Regions from separate parts of the Homo sapiens genome. Here region 2 is linked to region 1. A link means that fine-mapping ties the variant in region 1 to the plasma level of a protein whose gene starts in the linked region. Region 1 holds a variant in brackets. A gene starts in the other region. All regions are shown on their reverse strands.

Region 1 (8,524 bases):
CTAGTGTGCTCTTCCAAATTCTTCTAACCTCTGGCCATTACCTAGTTCCAAAGCTGCTCCCACATTTTTAGGTATTTGTTACAGCAGCACCCCACTTCTCCTACCAATTTCTGTTCAGTCCATTTGGGCTGCTATAACAAAATACCATAGACTGAATAATTTGTAAATGATAGAAATTTATTTCTCATTAATTCTGGAGACCAGGAAGTCCAAGATCAAGATGCTAGCAGATTTGGTGTCTGATGAAGGCCTGTTCCTCATAGATGATGCCTTCTAAGTGTCCTCACATGGTAAAAGGAGCAAGGAAGCTCCCTTCAACCTCTTTTATAAGAGCACGAATTCCATTCATGAAGGCAGAGCCCTTATGACCTCATCACTTTCCCCGAGGCTCTGTCTCTTGATACTGTCACATTGGGTATTGGGTTCCAACATATGAATTTTGGGGAACACCGATGTTCAGACCATAGCATACCCTTTCCAAGTCAGGTGGCCCTCTTTTGGGTGGCAGGCAATTCCCCAGAGAAGGAACAGCTGTGACTTGCTGTCAGTCAGTGTCATCGTGGCTGGGGGATGGGTATATCAGCAGGAAAAGGGGATCCAGAGCCCCCCTCAACAAACAATCATTGCAATGATTTTCTTGTGAATTGTTCTAGGGTTTGATTCACATAAATATAAGCAGATCAAATCTATATACCCTTCTTTCCGATTCACACGAAAGGTAGCATAGTGTTCTCTGTTCTGTGACTTGCTTTTTTCATGTAATTATCTTGAAGATCTTTTCATATTGGTAAATAAAAAAGGTCCTCATTCTTTTTTTCAAGCTGCATAGTGCCCTGCTGTATGACTGTATCATAACTGATTTAATTAGTGCTCTCTTGATAGACATTTGGATTATTTCTAATCTTTTGCTACTATAAAGCTGTATGATTATTTCTAATCTTTTGCTACTATAAAGCTGTATGAATGACCTTGTGTGTTATTTTGCATTCTCACATGTACATCTGTGGGGTATATCTCCAAAAGTTTAATGTCTAAAAAGTGACCTAGCCATCCAAAGGTGGGAGAATCACTTGAACCTGGGAGGCAGAGGTTGCAGTGAGCTGAGATCACGCCATTTCCCTCCAGACTGGGAGACACAGCAAAACTCTGTCTCAAAAACAAAAAAAAGAGCCTGGTATATTGTATCTGTAGCCTCAATGGTGATCATGGCAGGGCTTGGAATGGGGTGAGTCTTTAATGAAGTGGTGAAGGAACCAGTCTAAAAAGTGACCTAGACATTAATCTTTTTTTTTTTTTTTTTTTTTTTCTGAGACTGAGTCTCACTCTGTCGCCCAGGTTGGAGTGCAGTGCCATGATCAGTGCCATGATCTCGGCTCACTGCAACCTCCACCTCCTGGGTTCAAGTGATTCTCCTGCCTCAGCCTCCCAAGTAGCTGGGACTACAGGCACCCACCACCATACCTGGCTAATTTTTGTATTTTTAGTAGAGACAGGGTTTTGCCATGTTGGCCAGGCTGGTCTTGAACTCCTGACCTCAAGTTATCCACCCACCTCAGCCTCCCAAGACATTAAACTTTTGACAGATTGCCAAATGTCCTTCATAGGAATTATATAGGTTTGTATTCCCATTAGTTATACATGAGAGCGTTTATTTCCCCACAAGTTCATCAACAGCATGTATTACCAAACTTTTGGTTTTTCTCCTAAACTAAATGTCCTTTAAAATCTAGGCAGAGGTAGCCATGTCCCCATAGCTCTTGCACTCTGTACATCGGTGGAAATGTGATTAAAATCACCTTCCCAGTGATTTTAAGAACTATTTTTTTCTGATTATAAAAATAATACACAGGCTAGGCATGGTGGCTCACACTTGTAATCCCAGCACTTTGGGAGGCTGAGGCGGGAGGATTGCTTGAGCCAAGGAGTTCAAAACCAGCCTGGGCAGCATAGGGAGACCCCTGTCTCTACAAAAAATACAAAAATTAGCTGGGTGTGGTGGTGCACACCTCTAGTCCCAGATACTTGGGAGGTTGAGGTGAGAGGATCGCTTGGGCCCAGGAGGTCAAGGCTATAGTGAGCTGTGATGGCACCCCTGCACTCCAGCCTGGGCAATGGAGTGAGACCCTGTCTCAAAATAATGATAATAACAATAATAATACATGTCCACTTGTAGAACATTTGAAAAGTACAGTCTTTAAGCTTGTTATGTTTTGCCTATGTTTAAATATTTGAGAAAAAATTTTATCCACTTAGTCTAAGGATATTTTTCTCTTAATTGCCTAAAAGTCTGCTCACAAGCAGTCAAAATACTTTAAAGAAATCACAACTTTATTATTATTATTTTTTGAGAGGGAGTCTTCGCTCTTGTTGCCCAGGCTGGAGTGCAGTGGTGCGATCTCGGCTCATTGCAACCTCCACCTCCTGGATTCAAGTGATTCTCCTGCCTCAGCCTCCCGAGTAGCTGGGACTACAGGCATGTGCCACCACGCCTGGCTAATTTTTGTATTTTTAGTAGAGGCGGGGTTTCACTATGTTGGCCAGGCTGGTTTCGAACTCCTGACCTCAGGTGACCTGCCTGCCTTGGCCTCTCAAAGCGTTGGGATTACAGGCGTGAGCCACTATACTGGGCCTCTATGTTTATTTTTTAATGTGTCTGTTATTTGACTGTACCTTGTAGAGTAGGCTGCATGAAAGCGGGGACATATCCTGCTCCCTGATAAATCCCCAGGGCCTCGAACTCCAATGGCACGGAAGACACTTGTTCAATGAATAAGTGACTCTTGAATGAATGGAGGGGAGCCACCCGGGGCCATGTCTCCAGGAAGCCGGCTCAAATTCCTCCAGCTAAAAGTGGTCTTTGGCTCTCTTTAACATCCTGACACTTTGTTTATAGGGTTTTTGTGCTTTGCCCTGTAGCTTTTTTTCTCTCTTTTTTTTTTCTTTGAGATGAAGTCTTGCTCTGTTGCCAGGCTGGAGTGCAGTGGCACGATCTTGGCTCACTGCAACCTCCTTCTCCCTGGTTCAAGTGATTCTCCTGCCTCAGCTTCCTGAGTAGCTGGGACTACAGGCGCACGCCACTACGCCCAGCTAATTTTTGTATTTTTAGTAGAGACAGGGTTTTACCATGTTGGCCAGCATGGTCTCGATCTCTTGACCTCGTGGTCTGCCTGCCTCAGCCTCCCAAAAAGTGCTGGGATTACAGGCATGAGCCACCATGCCCAGGCTTTTTTTCTCCTTTTACTGACACCAGCACTGTGAACCCCAAGCCAACATCTCCAAATCACCTGTAAATGCTCCCCTGTCCCCAAATGCACTCAACCAGGATTTGCTGAATAGATATGGGGATAGATAAATATCAGCTGTGGGCTCTTTAAGAGGGTTTGTTGAAACAGGTGGGACCTGAGGATATCTTCCTGGGAGCCTGAGAAATTTACACACTTAAAAGTCTTTTACAGGTCCAGGCTACATCTTAAATTCTCTACAAACCCTCTGTGGCAGATTGTACTTTCTGAGAAAGGCCACGCCAGCTGGGCG[C/T]GGTGGCTCACTCCTGTAATCCCAGCACTTTGGCAGGCCGAGGCGGGCAGATCACCTGAGGTCAGGAGTTGGAGACCAGGCTGACCAACATGGAGAAATCCCGTCTCTACTAAAAATGCAAAATTAGCTGGGCATGGTGACACATGCCTGTAATCCCAGCTACCTGGGAGGCTGAGGCAGGAGAATCTGCTTGAACCCGGGAGGCGGAGGTTGCAGTGAGCCGAGATCGTGCCATTGCACTCCAGCCTGGGCAACAAGAGCGAAACTCCATCTCAAAAAAAAAAAAAAAAAGGCCACACCAATATTTCCAGTTTCACATGCTTTTCCAGAACCTTGCTACTGCCCCATCTAGAGGGGAAGTCAGTGTCCCCACCCTGTGAGCCTGCGCAGGCCCTTGTGACTGCCTGGACAAATAGAATCAAAACCGGCTACATCATTTGTGGGTCCCAGTCAAATGAAAATACGGGGCCCTTGTACAAACATTTATTTAGTTATTTGTTTTGAGACAGGGTCTTGCTATGTTGCTCAGGCTGGAGTGCAGTGGTGTGATCACAGCTCACTGTAGCCTCAAACTCCTGGGCTCAAGTGATCCTCCCACTTCAGCCTTCTGAGTAGCTGCGATTACAGGTGTGCATAATCATCATAGCTGGCTAATTTTTTTTTCAGTTTCTTTTGTGGAGATGAGATCTTGCCATGTTTCCCAGACTGATCTTGAACTCCTGGCCTCAAGCGATCCTCCTGCCTCAGCCTCCCAAAGTGCTGGGATTACAGGTGTGAGTCACTGTGCCTGGCCATCAAATATTATTACGAATTTCCAGGGGGTGAGAGCAGAGCATTAAACCAAGCATGGGGCTCTGTGTGACCACACAGGTCACACGCCCATTAAGCTGGTCCTGAATAGAATGCAGTGGAAGTGATGCTGAGTGATTTTTTGGGCTCATCAACAAAGGTGATACAGCTTCTACCTGGCTCTCTCTGAGGCTGCTCTACCTTGGAACCCAGTCACAATAATGTAAGGAATCCCAGGTGACATAAAAAGGCCATGTATAGGTGTTTCGTTGTCTCTAGCTAAGATCTTAGTCTACAGCCAGCATCAGTCTCGAGACATTAGTGAATGAGCTCTCGAAGCTTCCAGCCCCAGCCATCAGGTGACCCCCAGCCTTTGGGTCTCTCTGCTCAGACCCTAGACATTGTGGCACAGAGACAAGCCCTTCCTACTGTGCCCTTTCCAAATTCCCGACCCACAGAATCCATGAGCATAATAAATGGTTGTCTTATACCTCTAAGTTTGGGAGTGATTTGATACTCAGCAAAAGATAACCAGAATATTTCCCACGACTTCAGCTCATACTGGCCTGTCCTTTTTTGAATTGTTGCAATTTTGGCTCAAAACATGCATTTCATCTGCTGTTCTCAAAATTTGAAAGTATACATTTAATTGGCCGGGTGTGGTGGCTCAAGCCTGTAATCCCAGCACTTTGGGAGACTGAGGTGGGTGGATCATTTGAAGTCAGGAGTTTAAGACCAGCCTGGCCAACATAGTGAAACCCCATCTCTACTAAAAAAAAAAAAAGAAAAAAAAATGCAAAAATTAGCCGGGTATGGTGGCCCACGACTTTAGTCCCCAGCTACTCAGAAGGCTGAGGCAGAAGAATCACTTGAACCCAGGAGACAGAGGTTGCAGTGAGCTGAGATGGCACCACTGCACTCCAGCCTGGGTGACAGAGCGAGACTCTGCCTCAAAAAAAAAAAAAAAAAAAATTCAGTACAATAACATGCTATACAGATTTGCAGTCTAGGAGCAATAGGCCATACCATATAGCCTAGGTGCGTTTAGTAGGCTATACCAAGTAGGTACACTCTGTGTATAAATACACTCTATGATGTTCACACGATGACAAAATCACCAAATGATGCATTTCTCAGAACATACCCCTGACATTAAGCAACGCATGACTGTATTTGTGTAGTGTCTGCACCTCTCTCTGGACTGTCAGCTCCCATAGACTATGCCTTTGCCATTATGCCTGGCACCTGGTAGATGCTCAATAAATAATCATTGGGTAAATAACAAGATCTTGCTCTGTCACCAAGGCTGGTGTGTAGTGGCACAATCATGGCTCACTGTAGCCTTGGCCTCCTGGGCCCAAGCGATTCTCCCGCCTCAGCCTCCTGAGTAGCTGGGACTACAGGCATATGCCACCATGTCTGGCTAAGTTTTTTCTTTTCTTTTCTTTTCTTTTCTTTTTTTTTTGTAGAGAGAGATAGGGTCTTGCTATGTTGCCCAGGCTGGTCTGAAACTCCTGGGCTCAAGCGTTACTCCTGCTTCAGCCTCCCAAACTGCTGAGATTATAGGAGTGAACCACCATGCTTGGAAACATTAGTTCTTACAAATTAATTCTATGTACTCAAGGAGATGACAGGGATCTTTTATTTTCTGTTGCAACTTATAACATCATTAGGTACAGTAAAAGTAAAACAATCCACTGGGTGTGGTGGTGCATGCCTGTAATCCCACCTACTTGGGAGGCTGGGGCAGGAGAATCTCTTGAACCAGGTAGGTGGAGGTTGCAGTGAGCCGAGATCATGCCACTGCACTCCAGCCTGAGCAACAGAGTGAGACTCTGTCTCTAATATGTGTAATTTTTGATAAATTAATCAACCACACAAGTAAGGACGGAGTAAGTAAGGTAGTTGAGAGTTAAAGCCTAGTGAACATCTGATGAGTTTATTTTATTTGTGGAAGAGAAGTTTAGGAACCAATCTTCTGACCTCTCTTTTGCCTTAATTAAAAATATAACACCTTTTGGTTATTCTGCTGTTCTTCCAGGAATCTTCGGACAGACATTATGCATACAGTGGAAAGTTACAAAAAGGGAGTTATTTTCTGAGAAAATCCCCCGAGTAAACTTTAACCAAAGCAAAGAGTGTAAGTGGCAGATGACCAAAGAGTAGAGAATAGGAAAGTACTTGTCACTGGTATATTAAAAATAATTTTCCAAAAAAGAAACTCTCGCCCGGATGTGGTGGCTCAAGCCTGTAATCCCAGCACTTTGAGAGGCCGAGACAGGCAGATTGCTTGAGGTCAGGAGTTCGAGACCAGCCTGGCCAACGTTGTGAAACCCTGTCTCTACTAAAAATACAAAAATTAGCCGGGTTTGGTGGCGTGCGCCTGTAATCCCAGCTACTCAGGAGGCTGAGGTAGGAGAATCACTTGAACCCGGGAGGCGGAGGTTGCAGTGAGCCGAGATCGGGCCACTGCACCGCAGCCTGGGAGAGAGAGCGAGACTCCCATCTCAAAAAAAAAAAAAAAAAAGAAAAAAAGAAAGAAACTCTCACATAGATATAAAATGAACATGTTCAAGATTTTCTTTAACTCAATGATCATTGAAGAAATCAAGCAGATATTACAATAGGTTCAAAAAATAGACCCATTTGTAGACCAGGAATAATGAAATAAATGTGCAAATGGAGGCAAACGGATTTTTTTTTTTACAGAGGGTAAGCAAAATCAATTGACTTTCTACTAGACAGAACATAATTTGCATGTTTATAAACAATAATTTTTTTTTTGCATTGCCAGCAATTAGCTATTTTGTAAAATAGCTCAAAGTCAATGAAAGACTAGAGTCAGATACCCTGGAGGAGTATTCTCTAGACAATGAAGTTTTTCACTGAAGTTCAAGTGGAAAGGCATTGGTTTTCCTCCAGCTGGAAAGGTGAGATATTAAACGGTCTGGGAGCTTTGGGGTTTGGGAAAATCTGGGTTTGAGGCTAGTCCGGAGAAGAAGTAGCGCCTCCCGGTGATTCTGATTCAGCAGGCTGGGAACAGAGCCCGGGCATCTGTGTTTTCGAATAGCTCCATCAGGCACCCTAATTAAGAACCGGTGTGTTAATTTAGCACTCAATATTCCATCCTAAAGGAGAATCTAATGTAAGAATAATCCAAATATTTACCTAAGTTTTTCTTTAAACAAATAAACATTTCTATTGATTTTGGGTACAGGCAATGGCATTTGGGGACAGAGCTGACTTTTCCCATTTGGTTTCTTTGAATGGTTTCTTTCAGCCTTCACTTATGAGGGAGGCAGTCCTTAGGTATGTGGATCAAGGGGGAAATCCTTGCACATTCCCCGCGAGATCTTTTGATTCTCTTCCCCACTCAGCACATCCTGTGCTTGCTGTCAGACCCTAGACTCAAGCTCTGGTGGCAGAGGGGACTTCTGGCTGGGTTAGTTCCTACGCAGGCGCTCTAGGTGGGAAAGGGAGCCTGCAGGGGGCCCAGAGCTGGCCAGCAGGGGGCAGCACAGGCTCAGGCTGGGAGGCGCGGGAGCCCATAGGATGCCGTCTTCCTCAGTTTCGAGAATCCCCTCCCCCGACTCAGCCTGGGTGACCAGAGTTCTCTCATCCAGCTGTGAAACAACGCCTGGAGTTCACTATTTAGGTTCACTAAATAGGTTCACTATTTCCTGAACTTCGCCTAATACACAGGTGAGACTGAGCTTGGGAAATCACTCACCCTCCCTCTGCCCAAAATGCAACCCTCTCGCTTGCAAAATGGGGATAATTGTACCTACTTCATAGGCTTAAATAAGTAATATGCATAACACACTGGAGCAGTGCCTAACATATATTTAAACTACACATGTATTAGCTATTCTTTTATTTTATTTAAAATTTTTTTTAGAGACAGGGGTCTTACTATATTGCCCAGGCTGGTCTTGAACTCCTGGGTTCAAGCCATCCTCCTGCCTCAGCCTCCAAAGTCCTGGGATGACAGGTGTGAGCCCCCGCGCCTGGCCTGTATTAGCTATTGTTATTGCATTGCTACCGCTTATCAGGCACTGTGGATGCCACTGTGATGCAAGGAAGAGAAATAAGATAGCCGTGCTGGCTGAGAGCTCACAGCCTCATGAGAGAGGCAGCTAAGTAAATTCTTTGTGACACTGGGAAGAAAAAGATGAGCATGAGATGTGGGCAGGGTATGGAG
Region 2 (8,000 bases), not on the chromosome of region 1:
TCGCACCATTGCACTCCAGCCTGGGCAAAAAGAGCGAAACTCCGTCTCAAAAAAAAAAAAAAGAAAAGAAAAATAATTAGCCTGGTGTGATGGCACACGCCTGTGGTCCCATCTACTTGAGAGGCTGAAGTAGGAGGATCACTTGAGTCTGCAGTGAGCCGTGATCACGCCACTACTGCACTCCAACCTGGGGGATAGAGTGAGTCCTTATCTCAAAAAACAGAAAACAAAAAAAAAACAAAAAAAAACTGCCTTTTGTTAAGCTTATTTTGTGTCTGTGACCATTTCCTATTAGATAGATATTTGAGGCCCAGAATATCTGCTGCCAGTTGAGGCCAGGTAAGAGTTACTGGCTGCTCTTGTTAAGCAAATATTTGAACTCAGTAGGCCTGAAGATGGGGTAACTGTTCGGATACTCTGCTTGAAATGCTGTCAGTGTGGTTAATGTTGATAATGGCCTCTGTTGGATGCCTGACACGCTGTATAAGGCACTTCGTGTAACTTAGTTTCATCCTCCCAACATTTTATATATCAGGAGACTGAGCCTTTCGTCACTGTCACTAATAAGTGGCAGTGGCTAGATTCGAACCAAGTTGGTTAAGCCTCTAAGCCCCACATCAAGCGCTCAGCCTTGTTCGCTCTGGAGTACCAGGATGCTTCCAGACTCCCTGGCCGTGCAGAGCAGCTTCCTAGCTGTTTTCCCAGTGCCAGTCCCATTCCTTGGGTCTTCCCCTTATAATACTGTTGAAATAGTAAGTTCAAAGTTTGTTTTAGTCACAACTAAGAAAGACTTTTGAATTGCACATTTTGGAGCAGGAAAGTCACATTGTTTCTGACTCAAAATGCCTGTTGCCTTTTCCAGGTCCCCATCTCAGCACCTGCCTCAGGCTGCAGTGCCACTAGTTTACACACGGGAAAACAGTTTCTAGAAACGATTTCTTTTTATTTTTATTTTGAGACGGCGGGGTCTCACTCTGTCACCCAGGCTGGAGTGCAGTGGCACAATATTGGTTCACTGCCACCTGTTCCTCTCAGGCTCAAGAGACCCTCCCACCTCAGCCTTTTGAAGTAGCTGGGACCACAGGTGTGTGCCACCAAACCCAGTTAATTTTTTGTGTTTTTGGTAAAGATGGGGTTTTACCATGTTGCCCAGACAGGTCTCAAACTCCTGAGCTCAGGCAATTCTCCTGCCTTGGCCTCCCAAAGTGCTGGAATTACAGGTATGAGTTACCATGCTCAGCCTCTAGAAATGATTTCTAATGTATGTAGCTGCAAATAGAACTGGGCCCAGTTTCTGAATGGCACTTTGAGTAACTTAGCTTCATCCTCCCAGCATTTTACATATCAGGAGACTGTGTATCAATAGCAACACACTTTTAAAAGTCAGGAACAAAGAAAGTAAGCAGCTGGTAGAAGGCTCCTTGCCCAACTACACTTCAAGTGTCCTCCTCTTATCACTTCTTGGCCTTTTGGCTAAGATCAAGAAGAAGAAGACCAGGCATAGGGGCTCACACCTGTAATCTTAGCATCTTGGGAGGCCAAGGCAGGAGGATCGCTTGAGCCCAGGAGTTCAAGACCAGCTGGAGCAACATAGCAAGACCTCATCTCTATTTTAAAAAAGAAAGCCAAAAGAAGAAGGAACAAAGGGGGAAAATGTTTTCTTCTCAGATAAAAATAAGGTTAAAGAACAAAACAAAAACCAACTTGAATAAATAAGCATTCAGGAAAACGTATCTGAGGCCAGATAGAGTGGCAGAGTAAAGACATGCATGTTTTATCCCGGTATTCAGAAGTTATATTTGGAAACTTCTTATACCCTGTTCCCACATTATCTGATAAAAAGCCAAAAATAGTTTTCGTCATTCCCTTACCAGAGGAAGGAGAAAATATCTCTGATATCTTTTATGGATTGAAATTAAAGATCTGAAGGTAAATCTTCCTGATGTTTTGCTATTTAGTATAACAAACATTGTAGAAGACGTTTAAAAACTATCACTAGGTTGTGATTAAATCCAGATTACTGTTTGAAGAGAAACAATATATTTTAAAGATAAATCATTCAAAAGTTTGTTTTGCTTTTTTTTTTTCCTGGGAACTTCATATTGTGCTTTCTTGCTAATTGCCAGAGCTGGGTTGGCCTTTTCAGTCACGCATCAGAGCATAACACTTGATAAACCGTCATCCCTCCTGGTGTATGGTCTCCAGGCCCAACAGAGCAGGCAGAATGGGAGAGAAGTAACTGCCTAAAGTTTGGAAAACTTTTTATTTTGAAGTAAGTTCAAACTTCCAAAAATGTTGAAAGAATAGTGTAGTAGAACAACTCCTGTATACCCGTACCGAGATTTACCAGGTTTAAAATTTTGGAACCTTTGCCCTGTCATTATCTGTGTGTGTGTGTACGTACGTGTGTGTTCTCACAGGCATGCACATACACATTTTTTCTTCTAGACCATTTGAGAGTAGGTCTCCTATATCTTGTTCCTCTAACATTTTTTCTTTTTTCTTCTTTTTTTTTTTTTTTTTGACGGAGTCTAACTCTGTTGTCCAGGCTGGAGTGCAGTGGCACGATCTCCGCTCACTGCAACCTCTGCCTCCCGGGTTTAAGCGATTCTCCTGCCTCAGCCTCCTGAGTAGCTGGGATTACAGGCGCGTGCCACCACGCCCAGCTAATTTTTGTATTTTTAGTAGAGACTTGGCTTCACCATGTTGGTCAGGCTGGTCTTGAACTCCTGACCTCGTGATCCACCCGCCTCGGCCTCCCAAAGTGTTGGGATTACAGGCGTGAGCCACTGCACCCGGCCCCTCTAACCTTTAATACTAATACTTCAGGGAAAATACCCAAGAGCAAGGATATTCTCATACATAATCACAGGACAGTTATCCAATTCGATTAATTTAATATAAGTACAATATTTTCATCTATTCCACAGCTCCTATTCTAAGTTTGTCAACTCTCCCAACAATGGAACTGACACAATTTTATAATAGGCACACTGAAAAATGAAACCATTTCCCACTTCTAAAACAGTGTAGAAAGCTTCTGAATTCTTAGTTTGCTAGAAAAATGAACCAGTTGCCTATCCGTAAACACCAAAAATAATTTATAATCAGCAGAAACATTAGAAACCCAACTTACCTCTGTGTTTCTGAGAAGTGGCGCTTCAGAGATGAAAGCAGCCAAGGTCATCAGTGGGATTTTGATGTGAACTTTGGTGCTGGGCTGTTGCTGCATATTTTCCAAAGTAAATAAGTCCCAATCCAAACACCAGGCAACCAGCTTGGTCAGCACAAACCCCCTCAGCTGTGCCTTTGATAACTGTAGAGTGGCTTGCAGCTCCTCATCTCCAGTTCTTAGAGCTGACACTTTGAGTATATGACGGTTACTGTGTTAGCATGCACACATAGCCTTGGTGCAGGAGCAGCCCCTCTTGAGGTCACCACATAAACAAGGCGCTCTTCAGGCCTCTGGGGACCAGGCTGCATTGAGGGTAGCTGAAAGTAGAGACCATGCATCTGCCTCCAACTGTGTCCTCTCTTCTGGGATGATCACAGCATCTGCCCTCCACCTGCTCTCCAGGACTGATGTGGCTGGCTCAGCTACTAGGCGGGTGTCCCTGTCCTTCCAAGAGCTCGTTCCTCAGTGAAAGGTGGAGGAGAGAGGACAAAATTAGTGGCTTACAGAATAAGGGGATTGTGGCATGGACCTTTCTTCAGTCAAGGGTTGCTGTGTTTGTTGCCAGTAGGTGCAGCCCAGCACTCCTGTCTGTTGTGGGACAGATAGGACTATTACTGAGCAGTGCCTCCCAAATTCAGGGCCACTTAGGCATTCGTGGGGATCTCTGAGGCTGTGATACATTTTGTGTTTATGGGTGTTTGTTTGTTTGTTTGTTTGTTTTGAGACAGAGTTTCGCGCTGCTGCCCATGCTGGAGTGCAGTGGTGCGATCTCAGCTCACTGCAACCTCTGTCTCCCAAGTTCAAGCGTTCTCCTGCCTCAGCCTCCTGAGTGGCTGAGATTACAGGCGCACACCACCATGTCCAACTAATTTTTTGTATTTTTAGTAGAGACGGGGTTTCACTATGTTGGCCAGGCTGGTGTTGAACTCCTGGAGTGAAGTGATCCTCCCGTCTCGGCCTCCCAAAGTGCTGGGATTACATGCGTGAGCCACCACGCCTGGCCCTATGTGTTTTTTGAGACAGGGTCTCACTCTGTTACCCAGGCTGGAGTGCAGTGGCGTGATCTTGGCTCACTGCAGCCTCAACCTCCCGAGCTGAAGCAATCCTCCTCACCTCAGCCCTGCAAGTAGCTGGGAATACAGGTGCACACCACCATGTCTAGCTAACTTTTGACTTTTTTGTAGAGACAGGGTCTCACTATGTTGCCTAGGCTGGTCTTGAACTCTTGGGCTCAAGTGATCCTCCTGCTTCAGCCTTGCAAAGTGCTGGGATTACAGGCATGAGTCACTGTGCCCGGCCTTATGATAATTTGTTTTTTAATTTGTGTTTTAAATTTTATGATCTAAAAAGTTTTAAGAATATTCTGGATTGTCTGGAAGATCAGCTTATCACAGAGACTGCTCCTCAAGAGCATGTTTGGGAGTGTCGGCACCCAGAGTCTATCTGAAGAGAGAATGTGACTCCTAGGAGAATCTGCGGGTGTGCAAGGGGCCCATGGGGGTGTCTGTGCATTGCTCCGTTTGAGAAATTCCAGAGTGTAAAGGTCCATTGTGTTCAGGACACAGACCGGTGGTTGTGTCTGAGTCTGATTTTGCACTCTAGCTTTTGTCAGAGCTGTCTTCTTAGAGCCTTCATCTGTCACATACAATACTGAGTCTTCAGCGTGGCACCACAGGCAGAGGCTGCTGTCTGTGCCCACACTCCTCGTGGGCCCACCTCCCTCATTCTCTGTCTTGTTCTCACACATGCAAAGCCCGGCCCCAGCACAGCCCTGGCACTTGCTATTCTTTCTGCCCAGGACACCATCCCTGCAGACCAGCAGGTGGCCGCTGCTCTCACTGTTCGCTCTTGGTTTCACCGAGGCGTCACCAGCCACCCTGGCTGAAATTGCCCCTTGGCCTCCAGCTCTCAGTATTCTGCTCTCTGAAATGAGGGTGACAGTTACACCTACTGCATGAGGTTGTTGTGAAAATTAAATGAGATACATTAATTTATCTCATTAATTAAATGAGAAAATTAAATGAGGTTAATGAATGTGTGGAAAGCACATAGAGTGGTGCCTGGCATTCAGAAAATGTTAGTCCTCATCATTTCATGGTATTACATATTTATTCACAGAAATGGTCTGGGAGGGGACACAGCATTCATTTTTCATTCTATGTACTTCTTTGTTTGACCTTTTTCTATGTGTATGTATTACTTTTGTTATTTTTAAAGCCAGTACCGGCCAGGTGTGGTGGCTCACACCTGTAATCCCAGCACTTTGAGAGGCCAAGGCGGGTGGATCACTTGAGGTCAGGAGTTCAAGACCAGCCTGACCAACATGGTAAAACCCCGTCCCTACTAAAAATACAAAAATTAGCTGGGTGTGGTGGCACACATCTGTAGTCCCAGCTACTCGGGAGGCTGAGGCAGGACAATCGCTTGAACCTGGGAGGTGAAGGTTGCAGTGAGCCGAGTTCATGCCACTGTACTCCAGCCTGGGTGACAGAGTGAGACTCTGTCTAAATAAATAAATAAATAAATAAATAAATAAATAAAGCCAACATATTTCCTGTCTATTTGGATTTCTGATCATGTAACCCACTATTGGAAAAATTTGATTTCAGTCCCTCTTGACATTGACATTTTTCAGTCATTTTCCCATTTAGTGGTAACAGCTTGTGTATGGCTTTTTTTTTTTTGAGACAGAGTCTCGCTCTGTCGCCCAGGCTGGAGTGCAGTGGCGCAATCTCAGCTCACTGCAAGCTCCGCCTCCTGGGTTCACGCCATTCTCCTGCCTCAGCCTCCCTAGTAGCTGGGACTACAGGTGCCCACCACCACGTCTGGCTAATGTTTTGTATTTTTAGTAGAGACGGGTTTCACCATGCTGGCCAGGCTGGTCTTGAACTCCTAACCTCATGATCCGCCCGCATCGGCCTCCCAAAGTGCTGGGATTACAGGCGTGAGCCACCACAGCTTGTGTATGGCTTTAACCCCACTGTAGAGCAGTACCTCCTGTCACACATACTCCATTGTTCTTTTGCAGTTTCAAGGTTTGTCTTATGGCTAGATATTTTTTCCAACTTGGAAAAAAATTTTTTTAGTTAGAAAAAAGCGGGGTCTCACTATGTTGGCCAAGTTGGTCTTGAACGTCTGGCTTCAAGCAGTCTTCCCACCTTGGCCTCCCAAAGAGCTGGGAAGACAGGCGTGAACTACCTCATCCAGACTTTTCCATCTTTTAACATGAAATTCTAAAAATATACAGAGGGGTCAGGCACGGTGGCTCATGCCTATCATCCCAGCACTTTGGGAGGCTGAGGCAGGAGGATCACTAAAGTTTGGAAAACTTTTTCTTTTGAAATAACTTCAAACTTTCAAAAAAGTTGAAAGAATAGTGTAGTAGAACAACTCCTGTATACCCGTACCCAGATTTACCAGGTTTAAAATTTTGGAACCTTTGCCCTGTCACTGTGTGTGTCTCTGTGTCCAGCTTGTGTGTGTGTGTGTGTGTGTGTGTGTGTGTGTGTGTGTGTGTGTGTGTGTGTCCGTGTCCAGCTTGGGCAACATAGCAAAACCGATCTCTCTCTCTCTCTTTTTTTTTTTTTTTTTTTGAGACGGAGTTTTTGCTCTGTTGCCCAGGCTGGAGTGCAGTGGCTCAATCTTAGCTTGCTGCAACCTCTGCCTCCTGGGTTCAAGCGATTCTCCTGCCTCAGCCTCCCAAGTAGCTGGGATTACAGGCGCCTGCCATCATGCCTGGCTAATTTTTGTGTTTTTAGTAGAGACAGGGTTTTACCATGTTGCCCAGGCTGGTCTTGAACTCCTGACCTCAGATGATCTGCCCGCCTCAGCCTCCCAAAGTGCTAGGATTACAGGCATGAGCCACTGCTCCCGGCTAGCAAAACCCATCTCTACCAAAAAAAAAAAAACTGGGCCATGATGCTGCACACCTGTAGTCCCATCTGCTCAGGAGGCTGAGGCAGAAGGATCACTTGAGTATGTACAGTGAGCTATGATTGTACCCCCTACTCCAGTGTGGTCGACAGAGTGAGACCCTGTCTCTAAAAAAAATATGTATACATACACAGAGAAATTGGAATAATTGAATACTAAATATCCATACACCCACAACCTAGGTAGAATAGTTAATATTTTTCCATATCCACTTAAAGACATCACTCACTTCTGCCCTGGGCACTAGCACCAGTGTTTCTTCCATGGACGGGTCTCTGCCCTGTGCTGTGCTACCATCACTCCTGGGAAGATCACAAGCCTCACATATATCACATGTCTAGTCCAAGTCAGATTACTCTATGACTTCAAACATGTATTTTATGGGTTTTTAATTTTTATCTGGTCAGGGTTTCATGTGTCGCATTTGACTGTTATATCTCTTTAGAATCCTTTATCTATTTCAGTCTTCCCACTTCCCCCCTGACCTTGATTTTTTTTTTTTTTTGAAATGGCGTCTCGCTCTGTCGCCCAGGCTGCAGTGCAGTGGCGCAATCTTGGCTCACTGCAACCTCGGCCTCCTGGTTTCAAGCGATTCTCCTGCTTCAGCCTCCCGAGTACCTGGGACTACAGGTGTGTGCCACCACGCCTGGCTAATTTTTTGTATTTTTAGTAGAGATGGGGTTTTACCGTGTTAGCCAGGCTGATCTCGATCTCCTGACCTCCTGATCTGCCTGTCTTGGCCTCCCAAAGTGCTGGGATTACAGGCGTGAGCCACCACACCTGGCCTGACCTTGATACTTCTTAGGAGTGAGCAGATCTCCTTTCTGGAGACTAGAGCAGTCTCAGCCAAGACAGTGGCCAGCAGGCTCGGAGAAGTCAGAGAGCAGGGAGA

Which allele goes with the higher level. Alleles are on the strand shown, and positions count from the first base shown. The strength of an association depends on the size of the effect and on how common the allele is.
For the plasma level of the protein whose gene starts at base 3,169 in region 2, C is the low allele of the variant in region 1 and T is the other (moderate association).

Evidence for each region. PIP is the posterior inclusion probability: the model's chance that the variant is causal. The UK Biobank Pharma Proteomics Project read protein levels with antibody pairs (Olink). The fine-mapping took linkage between variants from a reference panel, not from the people measured, so its PIPs are less certain.
Region 2: it holds the start of SERPIND1, and the variant in region 1 is fine-mapped to the plasma level of the SERPIND1 protein (UK Biobank, PIP 0.94).

Annotation. Positions count from the first base shown.
Region 1 is chr16:71,610,503-71,619,026 of GRCh38, reverse strand. LOC105371334 (a long non-coding RNA gene) reads left to right here. Exons shown (of 3, transcript XR_933717.2): 2 at 7,118-7,253. Among named protein-coding and RNA genes, the nearest start is that of MARVELD3, 11 kb to the left of the region's middle. The variant C/T (reference allele first, on the strand shown) is at 3,535.
Region 2 is chr22:20,769,282-20,777,281 of GRCh38, reverse strand. SERPIND1 (serpin family D member 1) reads right to left here and starts at 3,169. Exons shown (of 5, transcript NM_000185.4): 1 at 3,137-3,169. All of the region lies in intron 19 of PI4KA (phosphatidylinositol 4-kinase alpha), which reads left to right.